Regions from separate parts of the Homo sapiens genome. Here region 2 is linked to region 1. The links come from fine-mapping of genetic effects on gene expression. Tissue or cell type: atrial appendage. Region 1 holds a variant in brackets; the other region holds the start of a gene. All regions are shown on one strand. Distances are between the middles of the regions.

Region 1 (2,500 bases):
AGTGGAGCTGTGAGAAGAGGGTCACTGTCCTCCAGACCCCAGAATGGGAGATCCACTGACAGCTGGTAGATCCATACACCTGGAAAAGCTGCAGGCACTCAACATCAGCCAGTGAAAGCAGTTGTGGGGGCTGTACCCTGCAGAGCCACAGGGGTGGAGCTGCCTAAGGCCTTGGAAGCCCACCTCTTATATCAGCGTGTCCTAGATGTGAGACATAGAGTCAAAGGAGATTATTTTGGAGCTTTAAGATGTAATGACTGCCTTGGTGGGTTTCACACTTGCACAGGGCCTGTAGCCCCTTTGTTTTGGCCAATTTCTCCCATTTGGAAGGGGAATATTTACCCAATACGTGTACCTTCATTGTATCTTGGATAACTAACTTGTTTTTGATTTTACAGGGGATCATGGAGGGTGAATTTACTCTTTGTTGTTCTCATGACAGTGAGTTTTCATGAGATCTGATGGTTTAAAAGTATGTGGCACTTCTCCCTTTGCTCTCTCTCTGAACACTATGTGAAGAAGGTCCTTGCTTCCCCTTCATCTTCCATCATGATTGTAAGTTTCCTGAGGCCTCCCAGTTATGCTTTCTGTTAAGTCTGTGGAACTGTGAGTCAATTAAACCTCTTTTCTTCATAAATTATCCAGTCTCAGGTAGTTCTTTGTAGCAATGTGAAAATGGACTAATACACTACTTTAAAATCTTTTTCAAGTAATTCCAAAATCTCTATTATCTTGGTATTGGCATCTACTGATTGTCTTTTTTTCACTCAGTTGAGATCTTCCTGGTTCTTGGTATACTAACTGATATTCTACTGAAATTTCATATTGTTATAAGACTCTGACTCTTATTTAAACCTTTTGTTTTTGCTGACTTTCTCTGATGCTGCTCCAGCCTCATTACAATAGAGACAGAAGTCCAGGTTCTCCACTCGGCATTTACTCATCCACCAAGGGTGGGCGGGGCTCCTTGTTACCGCTGGGTTGGGACTTCCAGTTCCCCATGTGGTCTCTACTGCTGCCACAAGTGCAGGTGGCCTTGTTACCACTTGGCCTCAGGGTGATAGTCTGGACTCTCCATCAGGTTTGCTCCAACATCAGGCTGGGTGAAGAAGGAAATCCAGGATT[C/A]CCACATGGTCTCCGGACACCACAGAGAATGAAGTTCATTCCTGGCCAGCAGGGATGAAAATCATGGCTCCCTATGTGGTCATCTCTGACATCACCCCAGCAAGGGTGGGAGTTGGAGCATTTTCAGACAGAAAGGGTGTAAGTCTAGGCTCCCCACTCAGCTCTTCCTGGCAAGGGGAGGGGTGGGACACAGTTTCTTCCATGGTGTTTGGCTAGAGTGGACAGTTGATGGCTTACAAATCTTCTTTTGTGTTAAGCTCTCTCCTTCTTGAGCCTTTGGCTAGGGAGAGATCAGGCTTTTACTGGGCTTCTTTCTGGTCTGTGCCCACTGGCATTTCCTGGTTGCCAGTGTTTTCAGCTCCAAGTCTGGATTACTTCAGGCAACAGGAAAATCCAGGGAACTCATCATCACGTTGTTGTTTCTTGAGTCCCAATATCCTTAGCCACTCTGCCTTTTTCTTTTCACCTTTCAGAGTCTTCTTAGGTCTGTTTTATATATAATGGCCAGTGTTTTTTTTGTTTTGTTTTTCTCAGATACTGTTATTTTATTTCAGAAATAAGTAGTAACACACATAGACACATTTCTCTTTCTGCCTGCCCAGAAAACCACTACCCCAAAGTAAGTTTCAATCTTTCCCATGTGTGTTTTCACACTTTTGTTATAAACATCATAATATATATACATAAGTGTGCATTGAACACTTTGTTTTTACATTTCCTTGAAATACACTTAAGAATTCTGTCTTTCTTAATTGCTTACAGCACAAAGACCAGGTCTTCACGAGTAAGCTGAAATACAGCATTGACACTGATATTAGGCTAATTTATGCCCACAAAATGCTTTGGCCTAAAATATTCTGAGAAGCAAGGAGAACATCTGTCTTACTTCAAAAGAGCTGTTTATAAGCACAATCTCCCACTTACTTGCTTGATAGGGTCTTGGCTTAAGCCCTAGAAAGGATCAAACATATTATCCATACCCTCTATCAGAGTTTACATCTTTCAAGAGAGTCTTGAGTCAGTATTAAGATCTTCTGGGATCTCAGATCTTGGCTTCCTTTTATCTCCTCTCCCCTACAACCCCAAGAACAGTCCCTTAAACCAACTTGGTGCTTCCTTTCTGGGCTTCCTGCAATAGACATTTTCAAGGGTTGTTTGTGGCCGCCGTGCTTGCTGAGGCCTTTCAGGCAGGCAAGGAAGACACAACCTTGGAATATGTATCAATCCTGTACAAGATGAATCGCTGTCCTTCTTGGGTAATTAACTTCCTGCCAAGCAGCTGTTTGGTCTCCTCAAGGGATAATACCATGGTGGAGCCTCAGAGTCAATCTCCATCGCTGGCAGGTAGGATACTCAGCAGCAACAAGATCTAGAG
Region 2 (3,020 bases), 35 kb after region 1:
ACATAACATGTTAAACTGAGCATTGCGCTACTTAAAAATTGTGAATCTTGCTCCAAACTCATCATACTTGAAAAATACTAAATACAAGTGCTGTACGTTAGGTGATACGTTAACCTTTTAGTGGACAAATCATCGAAATTCAAAAAGAAAAGGAAGAAAAAGAAGAAAGGAGGGAACTGTTCCCTCTAAATGTTCAGTAAACACCCATGTGTGCGGAGATTGCAGGGGCCTTCCTTTTTAAGGACTTAATGTTTTTGCCTGGGGTGAAGTGTTGTTGGCACGTAATCAAAATACGTGACGAGTTACATGCGCTCTGCCAAACACCCCATTTTTTAAAGGATGTGACTCCAGAGTGACCCAAGAGCAACTGAAACGCAAGTTTTTTGGCACAGAAAGCCCACCTGGCGCCTAACACCCAAGCAGCTAAAGAAAGCGCTGGTGTTCTTGGGTTATCCTGGTCGAACAGGCTCAACGCGGGATTCTCGGTCAGATACAAACTGCTGACTTAGGAAACTAACCTGCAGCTGCTGAACTGCAGAGTGGGTGCACGTGGGGAGGAGTCCTGCGGGCCTCAGGATGGGGACTTCAAGCCAAGTTTGTTAAAGTGCCCGAGTGAGCGCCCCGCGGGAATCCAAAGGGGAGCGACTGGGCTGTCTCCCCTGGGTAGTTTTGTTGGATGGGCAGGTCCCCTTGCCCGTCGCCTCTTACCTCCTGGGAAGCCGCAAGGCGCCCCGAGGCGGCGAAGCTAAACACAAGGCAAGCCGGGCTGGTGCTTTCCAGAAACTCCCCAAGAACCTGCCGGTTGTCCTCGCTTTCCAAATACTGGCTCCATTTCTCCTCCGTGAACCCCAGCATCATCGCCAGGCGGCCGCCGAGGAAGCGCACCCGCGCGTCTTGGGCGAAACTCCGCGCTCTCCTGGCCGCCGCCTCCTCCTCGTTCTCCTCCTCCTCCTCGAGCTCCACAGCGCCCACTGCCTCCAGGCCGGCCCCCGAGGTTAGGCGAAGGGTCGGGGCTTCTCTGAAGTCTCGCGCCTCCCGGGCTGCCACCTGGGCTGCCATTGGGCAACCGTCCGAGGGAACGCGAGGCCGGCTGGCTCCTCACCCGAGACTCTGGGCCCCCCGAAGTGAGCGAGGACACCTCCGCAGGCGCCCACCCTCCTCCGCGGTCGCCGCGAGCGCAGACCCTAGTCTCCCACCTGCTGCTACTTAGCAGCCGCGCCACTGCGCACAGCTGTAGCCTCGCAGGCCGAAGCGAAGGCCTGGGACAAGCAGCGCGTCCCGTTTCCCGGGGGACGGTGTCCCCGCCCCAGCCCGCTGGGGGCGGAGTGAGCGCACCGCGCCACCGCCCAGTATACGCCAAGGCCAAGGCCGAGGGGAGAGGCCCTCGGGCTCTAGGTCCCGAACACGGCCGAGAAGCCGCGTGTCCGGGGTGGGTCTGAGCCCCCAGTGCGCTCGCTCCACTGCCCTCCGGCTCCTTCGCCTACTGGACACTTGGTGGAGATCCCAGCATTGGTTAAGTGCTCTGGATGAAGCAATGCTCTCTTGTGCCAAGGTCCGTGCTAATCTCTTACCTTGACTAGTTGACATAATCCGTAGAAAGCCAAGTCTCTGACTGGTCAGTCTTTGTTTTATGGGCAAGGAACTAAGTTACAAAAATAAGTAACAGAGAAGTTTCGGGGCCCAAGTTGAAGGCTGTTATTCACCTTTCCCAAGGTGTCCAAATATTACCAGAAGAGAGCCAGTCCTGCAATTCAACTTTCCTAGTTGTGGGAATCCAAGATCTAAGTATTCGAAGTCCTCCTGATTGCCATCCTCAACCTGAAACTTACTGGAACTTCAGTACACCCAGTAAGAGAACGCACAGTGCCCTTTCGTGATCTCCAAAATGTTCCGAAAATCTATAGATTTATCATTTAATTCAAGAGTAAAAAGGTCAAAGAGAAAAAGCTTCAGATTAAAAACAGTTTCATGATACTGAAATAGGATTTCACTGCGGTCCATTAGTGGCTTTCGTTGAGACTCTTATGGAAATTCTAATTATTAAAGCAACCAGAATTTTGAGGAGGAGTCCTCAACTAAACTTTTAAGTCTCCTTTGTTAATTGTTTATTTCAAACTAAAGTCTTCAATCCCCACCCCTTCCATGGGGGCTACTGAAGGACTGTTGCCCACAATAATCCATTTAATACCTGAATGTTGACAGACATTTCCAGAAGATGAGGCTTCAACAATTTTTTTCTTTGCAGGATATTAACTGCCCCTGAAAACCATCGACAAGTTTCCAGTTATGTGATCAGAATCTTGAAATAACACAGGGCCTTGGAAAACTTTGATAATGACTTCTAACCTGTCAAGGCTGCTTTATATTGTCCATAATAATCTTTGGGGCTCCCAGTTGCTGGTATACAAGGCTGGCAATCACCAGTTCCTTCTCTCCCCTCTTATATTCCAGCTTCACATCCCTGTAACCTAGAAAACCGGGAATTCTGTAAATAATAGTTGAATTAAATTGAAAGTGAATAACCACTTTCAAATCTAGCAGGAAAATTTTTTAAATGATGCTAACTTTAAAGTGCAATTTCCAAAAAGTTAACTATGTAACTCGAAATATAAGATGAAGATATGTCAAAGATTGATTTAACTCATAAATGAGGAAAGCAACAAAATGATGTAAGTTCCAAGGACAGTTCGAGAAAGAAATTTAGCAGCATTGGAGGAAGACAGGATGAGTCAGCTTGCTAGGTTCAAAACAACACTCACTAATGTCATACAGGGCAAAATAATCCTTTGTTTTTTAAAAAATAATTTGTTTTTCCAAAATAAATTACATCTGTATTGAACAAAAATCTGTAAATAAAAACGTAACTTCAGAGTTTGAGACTTCGATCAGTAGTAGTTAATGAGTCCAAAAAAGATACTTTTCCCTAAATAATTAATAATCCTTTCATTGGCCGGTGAAGCAGTGTTTCAATGTGACAGTGAATGAACATGGCTTTACCTTGTTCCCAAGTTTTATGTATT

Alleles and levels. Alleles are on the strand shown, and positions count from the first base shown. SD is a standard deviation of normalised expression in the study named.
For the expression in atrial appendage of the gene that starts at base 1,266 in region 2, C is the high allele of the variant in region 1 and A is the other (large effect, 0.80 SD a copy in GTEx).

The links. PIP is the estimated chance that this variant, and not a neighbour inherited with it, causes the effect.
Region 2: it holds the start of DNAH11, and the variant in region 1 is fine-mapped to the expression of DNAH11 in atrial appendage (GTEx, PIP 0.91).

The regions. Positions count from the first base shown.
Region 1 is chr7:21,576,097-21,578,596 of GRCh38, reverse strand. All of the region lies in intron 8 of DNAH11 (dynein axonemal heavy chain 11), which reads right to left. It overlaps LOC105375183 (a long non-coding RNA gene), which reads left to right and starts at 2,455. Exons shown (of 4, transcript XR_007060247.1): 1 at 2,455-2,500. The variant C/A (reference allele first, on the strand shown) is at 1,126.
Region 2 is chr7:21,541,285-21,544,304 of GRCh38, reverse strand. DNAH11 (dynein axonemal heavy chain 11) reads right to left here and starts at 1,266. Exons shown (of 82, transcript NM_001277115.2): 1 at 709-1,266. The coding sequence starts at 1,059. RefSeq lists a silencer at 1,345-1,394 and an enhancer at 1,443-1,944.